Linked DNA regions of Homo sapiens. The protein of the gene in region 2 purifies or fractionates together with the protein of the main gene of each other region. This does not show direct contact. Each region holds a gene or a part of one and is shown on either strand. Other genes may lie near its edges.

Evidence for each region. The genes of interacting proteins can lie anywhere in the genome.
Region 1: the proteins of MAPK4 (region 2) and SFXN2 purify together in Homo sapiens (affinity purification with mass spectrometry, with the first as the bait; one large-scale study listed by BioGRID). This does not show direct contact.

The regions. Positions count from the first base shown.
Region 1 is NC_000010.11:102,738,636-102,741,313, forward strand, and holds part of SFXN2 (sideroflexin-2), read left to right. Parts: 3' UTR 1-2,678. UniProt on the Homo sapiens protein: Mitochondrial amino-acid transporter that mediates transport of serine into mitochondria. Involved in mitochondrial iron homeostasis by regulating heme biosynthesis.
Region 2 is NC_000018.10:50,557,573-50,563,635, forward strand, and holds the start of MAPK4 (mitogen-activated protein kinase 4), read left to right. Parts: upstream 1-2,514; 5' UTR 2,515-2,671; intron 2,672-2,689; exon of another isoform or gene 2,690-3,187; intron 3,188-6,063. UniProt on the Homo sapiens protein: Atypical MAPK protein. Phosphorylates microtubule-associated protein 2 (MAP2) and MAPKAPK5.

The DNA of each region.
Region 1 (2,678 bases), on a different chromosome or scaffold from region 2:
TCAGACACTTAGGAGTTATTAGTGCTAAAAAGGGGACCGTGCAAGGCAGCAGAGTTACATGGTTCTTCAAATCATGTCTGAACCTATTCTTGGAATCTTCTCTATAATAAGGGAAGTTCTCTTACCCCACTGCCACATACCTCTGTTTTAAAAGATAAGTCCACTAACTGTGAGTAAAAATGATATATATAGGCATTAACCACACACTTTAATGGGTATAATTTCCTGGCTGCCTCCCTTCCTCAGCCCATTAGGTTAAACACCAAAGAAAGACTGGTGTGTACTGAATAGGAAAGGGAAGTTTTATTTGGAACCTTCTAAGAGGAAATCAACCAGGACCAAAGAGCCTTAAAGGACACACAGCAATGCACAGCCACTTCCCTTCCCCAGCTTGGCTGCCCTAGGTGATTTCTCAAGCTCCTTGGGGGACTGTTGTTTCTCATCTGGAATCAATGTGTGTATGAGTTTTGTCTGGTAGGATTGCTGACTCTGTCCAACAGATATCACTGTGAATTGAATAAATTTGTTGAAAGAGCACACAGGCACACATACACACAAACTGTAAACTAAGTTAATGAAGCCTGAATGGAAAGCAGGATCTGGCCTTACTTTGGCCTTGGCATGTCAGAAGGTATCACAACTACTATATAAGGGGAACTTGTCTGATGCCTGGAGGCTGTTGTTTATTTCCCTCATTAAAGGGGAAATCCACCTGTCTCCACAGGAAGCTCCAGATCTCCCAGAATGGGAGCTGTGTTGCCCTAGAGCAAGAGTTGGCAAGCTATGGCTCAAGGGGCCAAATCCACCTGCCACCTGTTTTTGTGCAATTGGAAGCTAAGAATGTTTTTACATTTTTAAAGAGTTGTAAAAGGGAACAACAGGAATGACAGAGACCCTACCTATGTGGCATACAAAGCCTAAAATATTTACTGTCTGATCCTTGACACAAAAAGTTTCCCCTGCCCTGGAGCAGTGGTTCTTAAGCACATGCATCAACCGGGCGCAGTGGCTCATGCCTGTAATCCCCACACTTTGGGAGGCCGAGGCAGGTGGATCACCTGAGGTCAGGAGTTCGAGACCAGCCTGATCAACATGGTGAAACCCGATCTCTACTAAAAATACAAAAAATTTGCTGGGTGTGGTGGCATACACCTGTAATCCCAGCTACTCGGGGGGCTGAGACTGGAGAATCACTTGAACCTGGGAGGTGGAGGTTGTGGTGAGCCAAGATTGCGCCACTGCACTCCAACCTGGGCGACTCCGTCTCAAAAAAAAAAAAGAAAACACATCAGAATTAGCTGGCAGGCTTGTTAAAGCACAGATTGCAGGATCCATTGCCAGATTCTGTCACTCTGGGCTGGAGCCTGAGAACGTGCATTTCTAGTCATTGCCCGGTGATGCTGATTCTGTTGGTCTTGGCACCATACGTGGAGGAGCACTGCTCTAAGGGGAAAGGGCCTCCTCCCCGAGGCCAAGGAATTCACTGCAACTTGATTTTTCTCCCCGTTTAAAAAAGTTAAAATATAACTCACATACCATAAACTTAGTCCTTTTAAAGTGTACAATTCAGTGGTTTTTAATGTAGTCACAAAGTTGTACAAGCATCACCACTAATTCCAGAATTATTTTGAGACAGGATCTCACTCTGTTACCCTGGTTGGAGTGCAGTAGTGCAATCACTGCTCATTGCAGCCTCAACCTCCTGAGCTCAAGTAATCCTCCTGCCTCAGCCTCTGGGGTAGCTGGGACCACAGGCTAATTTGATTTTTTTGATGAGGTCTCACTATGTTGCCCCAGGCTGGTCTCGAACTCATGGCCTCAAGTGATCCTCCTCCCTCAGCCTTCCAAAGTGTTGGAATTACACACATGAGCCACTGCATCTGGTCTCAGAACATTTTTCTTAGCCCCAAAAGAAACCCCATACCCATTGGCAGTCACTCCACATTCTCCCTACCTGCCAGCGCCTCACAATTCACTTCCTGTCTTTAGAGATTTGCGTATTCTGAACATTTCATGTAAGTGGAGTAATGCAGTATGTGGCCCTCTGTGTCTGGTTTCTTTCCTTAGGATAATGTTTTCAAGGTTCATCCATGTTGTAGCATATGCAATTTGATTTTAGCTGGTGTCTGAACAGAAAAGTCTGTCTTTGAGCTAGCTTCTTTAGGACAGGAGACCTGGCTTTATTTCCAAAAGCAAATAGGAAAAGGGAAACATTACCAGAGCCAGTAGAGCTTGGAAACAACTCCTGACTGATGTTCTTTCAGAACATACAATGTTTCCCCTTCCTTCTCAGCTCCTCAAGCCTCTTGGATTTCCTGTTCTCTTATAGACAACTGCTCTTTTGGAAATGTCTGGAAGGTATGTGGTGGCTATAATGTTCAGGGACATTCTAAAAAGTGGTCACTCAAACTGCATCTCAGTCTCATTTTGTAACATCTCTCTTCTTTGAGTTGGCTGCTGTGGGATGTTGAATAAGAGGCAGTTAAGGTTACTAAAAGGCCTTGGTGTGGGAAGTGCTAATCCAGACTGTCCTATCCAATAGCTCAGCTTGAGCTTTCAGGTAAAAGGAGAAAGGGAAGTTGGGGCAAAATCCCCTGTGTTTGCCAAACTGAATTGGGGTTTCTTATTTATTGAGAGAAAGAGGGTATCACTTTCTTGCCCAGGCTGGAGTGCAATGG
Region 2 (6,063 bases):
ATGGCCAGTGCTTACCCCCGGAAGAGAGGCCACATGCAAAGTCATTGGCCCCGATGCCAACTCCTCCTGGGAACAGAAAGGGTGGGGTCAGGAATCTGTTTAATCACCTAAGTTGCTTCCCTCCTCTACCTAGATCTGAGTCAAAAACAGGTGCCATGGGAGACAAATTTAGCCAGCACAATATTTTTGAAAAGTATACCGAAATACCCTAAGCAAGGCAGACAGGGCACTTTTTTGCTCTGTGCAGCACCCCTTGCCCCCATATCCTCCAGGGCTACTGTAGATGTGGGCACCCCTGGCCTAGCTACCGAGTTACAGCTTCTGGTGTCTAGTCACAGGCAGTAAGGAAATGCTGGCTCATTTTTTTTTCCTCCCAGAAAAAAAGTCTTCAAACAGAATGACCTGGTGAACTTCCCAACTCCAGAATTCTGTGCAGTTATTTTCTAGTGACTGACACCGACTTCAGCCAGCTGTTTCTTTAGAAGTCTTCCCTATGGAGTAAAAATAAGAAATAACTTGTTTCCTGATAGCAGCAAGGAGAACAGAACACCACTTTACCTGACAGTGGAGAGCCCCAGACAGATACTCGCTTCCTGTTCATTCCCCTGCCATCGTACGGTAATGGGCACTGATATTAAACATGCATATTTCACAGTCTCTTGTCCCGCGATTTGGAGGATGGCCATTCACTATGTATGAACCACTCACTCATGCTCATCACACAGAGAAAATTACATTTTCCCAGTTGCCAAATGGAAGAGATAAATTATCTCACGTGGACAAGCACATTGCTCTCAAGAGCAGCTTCCAGACCTAAGATAAACAGATTAAAAAAAAAAAACAAAAACACGCTGGAGGGGGACTCTGAGCTTTCCAGGTGTTGATGGGGGTCAGTCTCTTCATTCGGACTCGCCAGATCCTCACTTTGCAGTTAGTGGGCTTAAAGTGGCGGGACATTTGCCCTTCTGTTTCTTTTGGATTAAATGAGCAGCCTTGGGGCCTCTTATTCTTCCTTCATAGAAGAGATGTTATAAAAATGAATAAATCAACACAAAACATTTCATATTTATGCCTACTTGCTGAATTGATACTACTTGTAATGAAAATCAAGGAAGCAAAATGTTAAAATGTTCTCTTTGGGGAAGACACATTGGAATGTCTTACCACAGATATACACACACTCGCTTGTTACACACTCCTTCCTTATCCCTAACTATTCTCTGAGGTTAATGAAGGTCCTGATAACTGCAGTCTCTAACTTAGCATATCATCCTAAACCTACTACCTGCACACATAGGAGTCGCAGCGCAACTATGTACTAATGGCAGCCAACACTCATTACCCTTCATACCACCATCACTGTGCAAACCCTTAGTGCATTTTCCAATATGATCCCACAATCCTTCATTTTTATGTTTTGCCCACGCTAAAATTCGACAGCGAATTCTTGCAACAATTATTAAGCGTCTGGAATTGTATTAGGGTCTGGGGGTAGAGGTGGGGGACGAAGCGGGAATAACTGCAGTACACAGCAGACCCTATGAAAGTGCCAAAACGCAGGTCTCACTCGGAAGGCTTTGGGAGTTGGGAGAGGAGAAGGCTCATGGGCAGCTAAAGCCACCAGTGACCTCATTATGCAATATTTAGGTTATCAGACTTTTCTATGCCTAGAAAAGCAGCGCCTCAACCATTCCAACGGGACGCACCGCGTTCAGTGACGACCCTCATCGGTGCCCACAGCTCTGGGCTCGCTGAAGGCACCACAGAAGCACCAGTTATTACCAGTGTTAGGGTCCAGTGGCTTCTTCTGTCCCTTTCCTCTGGATCCCAAAGTGTTGGTTCTCTTTTGTTAGTTTTATTCCGGTCATGCCAATGAGCACAGATTCACAGCCCAGGCGGCCCGCTCGGAATCCCAGGCCGGCTGGGGACCGGTGCACTTGGGCTCCGCGCCCCCTCGACCCTCGGCCCAGTGCCCCTTCCCGCGCGCGCGGGTCTCCCCGGTTCCAGAGCCCACCGGTCCCCGCCGGCTCCTTCTCCCCACCCACCCTCCCACCGGGCCCCCGGCGGCTGCAGCCGCGCGGGGCTGGCGGGGCGGCGACCGGGCTCAGGCAGATCCCCGCTTCCCGCCTTCTCGGCGCCCCCTCCCTCCCGGACGGAGCCCGAGGATCCCCCACCCACGGCGGGCGTGAGGAAGGGCTTCTGAGTGACTGGAGCTCTACCGCGTGTGCCCCGGGAAGGCCAGGCTACCCGGGACGGGGCTCGGCTCCCCAGGTGAGCTCGTCTCCGCGGGACTGGGTCCGGGAAGGCCCCAGGACCGCGCGGCTGAGCGGCCTGGAGGCTGCGGGAGGGCAGAGCAGGGCGCGCGGGAGACTGCCGCCCCCGGGCGCCCAGGGCCCGGCTCCCCAGCGCCACCGCCGCAGCAGGTGGGGGCCCAGTGGGCGGGGGCGGGGCCCGGCTCTGGGCGGAGCCGAGGCGGCGGCGGCGCAGGCTGGGGCCGGGGCCGGGGCGGGAGCCGGAGCCCGAGCTGGAGCAGCGAGCCGGGCTGTCGGGGCGACCGCGGGAGCTCGCCGTGCGCCGTGGCTGGGACCGGCCTGGCCGAGCGCGCCGGCGCCGCGGCCGCAGACAAAGGGCGGCTCGCGCCCGGGCCGCCACGCTCTCGGGCTCTGCCTCGGTAAGTGGCTCCCCTCCGCTGGCTTTCTCCTCCCGCCGCCTGCGCCTCTCGGAGTTCGGCGGGCTCCGGAGAAGCGGGGAAGAGATGAGACTTCCCCGCCCGCACTGCCTCCCCACCTTACCCTAACAATAAGCCCCCCAGGCCAAGCCACTGCCAAACTAGCGAGTTTCCGAGCGGCGGGGGTCTCCCGCGGGACCCGCCCGGCTGCCCTGGGTGAGCTCCTCGCCTGCAGACCGCGCGCCGGTGCTGTCCTGGACCCGTTTGGGATGGGAGGTTGCCGCTGGGCTCCTCGCGTTGTGTTTAGGGGAGGAGGACGCAGGGGCCGGGCGCCGCTAGGGGACCCCACCCCCGGGGACAGTCCGGAGCGCTTGGGGTCGCCGAGGGGCAGTTCACACTGCGAGTTCAGATTCGGATCGCAGTCCCGATTATCCTCCCCTCCAGCCTCTCCCTTTCTCGTTGAAGGGTTAATACAGCGTCCTCTCCCCTCGCCACCCGACAGAGGCGCCTACACTGGCGGTAGGTAGCCCCTGGGAGAGGGGGAGTGGGGGGACCCCGCCGCTTTCGCCGCTGGGCGACCCAGAGCCCCAGCCTGCCGGAGAGGGCAGCGGCTCGGGTTTGACATCCCAGCTGGGTCCCGGGCCGGCTCCCTGAGCCTCCTCCCGGGTTGCTCTCTATCAGGAAAGCAATCGGAAGTCAGGCCGGCTTTTGCTTTTGTTCTGCCAGCTACTCTACGGAATCGTAGGTGAAGCCGGGGTGGGCGGATGCCCCGGGAGGGGGCTGTGGCGGGAGTTCCAGGTGCGTCCCCGAAATGACCATTGGAGGCGGCGGCTGTTTCCCGCCCCTGGGTGGGGAATGGATTCCGATCGCTAATCGATACCCTGGAGCCAGCAGTGGGTCAGCAGCGTCCCGACAGAGCGCAGCGGCCGCGTACTGTCACGCGCCTCTCCAGCACTCTCGAAAGCACTACCTCGAGACGTGCATTTCCATTCATGGATCTGTGCCTGGGGGTTGATTAATGTCACCCCTGCCTGGGTTGAGGAGTGTCCACAACTGCTCAGTAGCCATTTACTGGGAGGTTACTGTGTGCAAGGCAGCTATCTTAAATAACCTTAATGTAAAATATACTTATTGAGCACCTACTATGTGAAAAGCAGGTATACTGCAGACTTTTCAATTGAATGGATATGTATTGAGCACCTACCCCGTGCGAAGGTGAAGCGTCATGACGTTCTCAATGTAACAGATATTTATTGAGTACCTACTATGTTCAAGATAGCTATGCTATGACCTTATTGTAATATGTATTTACTGAGCACCTACTAAATACTAAAGGCTTTTTTGCTGAAGGGTTGCCCAGTGTACTTTTGGGGTACGGATAGAAACAAGGGAGAGAAAATATAATATCTTCTGAACCTCGAGTCTTCAACTCCTTTAGTGACCTGCGTTTTAACCTTTCCAAACCGCTTGTGTGGTGTATGAAGGGCTAGTCTTCTACACTTGAGGGTACACTTCTATGCTTGAGGGTTTGTCAGACAGGAGCAGGGCTGAATAGTAAAAAGGCTTGCTCTGGAACCTCTTTCCAATTCAGTTTCCTTGCATTAGAAAAGTCAGCCTCTTTGCATAAAGCACCATGGAGTTATCACAGGGAATCAAAGGGCAATAAGGCAAAGCCCTAATGCTCAAAGGGACAGAGAATCCATGCTGGAGACAGACAAAAAGACACCTCCCTTTTAATGCTACTGTCATACCGTGCTTAAACAGCTATTGTGGGAATACTCAGTGCTTTAAACTAAATAACAAAGCAACCTTGGATCATCTGATCCAGAAGTTCTAGACAACTGACCTAACTCCTAGAATTCTGCTTTTGAGCAGTGAGGGATTAATTGTAATTTTTCTTCATGTCAGAAATTAATTGCATGTATTTTTCAATTACTAAAAAAAAGCAAACAAATAGAAATTAGTGATTTGTATTAATCCAGAACCTAATCTGCTTTAACTCAATTACTCCAGATGCGTGAATCTCCTGTTGGGTTGGTTGCAAGTTGACTCAAATTCGTTGTTTCACTTTTGCTGCAGGTTAAAAGTCTGCCTCTTACAAACCCTGGCTATATCACCCTCTTGTTTCTAACTAAACAAGATTTTCTCAAATAAACTTCATTCTGCATTTTGGCCAATAAAAAAAAAAAAAAAAAAGACACCTCCTAAACAAGGAAGGAACCAATAGGGGAAGGGAGAGGGAAGCATGAAGACAGGGCCAGCTGAACCTTCCAGCCCCTCACTCCAAACTGATACCAGTGATGTTGGGGTGAGAGAGTCTAAGTCCCATCATTGCCCATGGCTGGGGCCCTAGGACTGGAATTAAATAGTTTTCCTGCTAAGAGATTTGATGAATCTGTTACTCTGATAATCTTAGGATCTTGAGATGCACTGGAATATCCAGATTGGCGAGAAAATCATATCCATTAGCAAATATTTGAGTATTTACAATGCAATATAGGCATTTATCAGGGAAATGTAGTCTAAGACGTAGTCTTTGTCTTAAAGAACTCTGGTTCATGAGATAAACATGTAAAATGACAACTTGGGCAGCATATATGAAAAGCCAGGAGCAAATTCCTCCTGGAATTTGACATAAAAAATATTCTCACCACATGGAACTGTGGTTTTTCTCTTATCAGACATTGAGAACTCTCTACGTGCCTTGTATGTTTATCTTTTTGCCTTGGCCTCTAGAAATTCCTGGTAATGGCTTTATCCCAGCTTCTTGGTACAATGATTTTTTTCTCCCTAAATTATTTCTGAGACCTCTCTTTTAAATTCTTTATAAAAAACTATATTACAGGATTTTTGTTGTGAACTTGAAAGCCTCTCTGAAATCTTTTCTGTAAGTAAGCCCGTTATGAAAGATACATAGAAAATATGGTAAGTATTAGATGAATGTGCTCATAAGAAAAGGGGGAAAAACTATCCGGAATTTACAGAGAAAACAAACGGGCTTTGCAAGATGAAATAGGATTCAGATGGGCAAAGACAACTAACAAAGACTTTCCTCCCAAATTGAGGGAAATAGCGTTGGCAAAGGTGTCAAGGAAAACAAACCGAATTTAGAGTACTTTAGGTATTTGATAGATCTTCCTCTGGAATAGTTTCCATTCACTCAACACACGAGTGCTGCTGGAACATTTTACTGTGTCAAGGACTAGGCTAGGTGTCAGGTGGGGGGCATCACCCAGAACCAATTGAGGTTCAGCATGATCCCACAGCTGTCAAGGACCTTTGTCTCCTGTCCTGGCTGTGGGGTAGCACTGCCCTGCATCTCAGCCATTCTTTCAAGCATTCCTGGAGTTTTTTCACCTGAGCTGAACTTGACTGTAATCTTCTTCAAGGCCAAG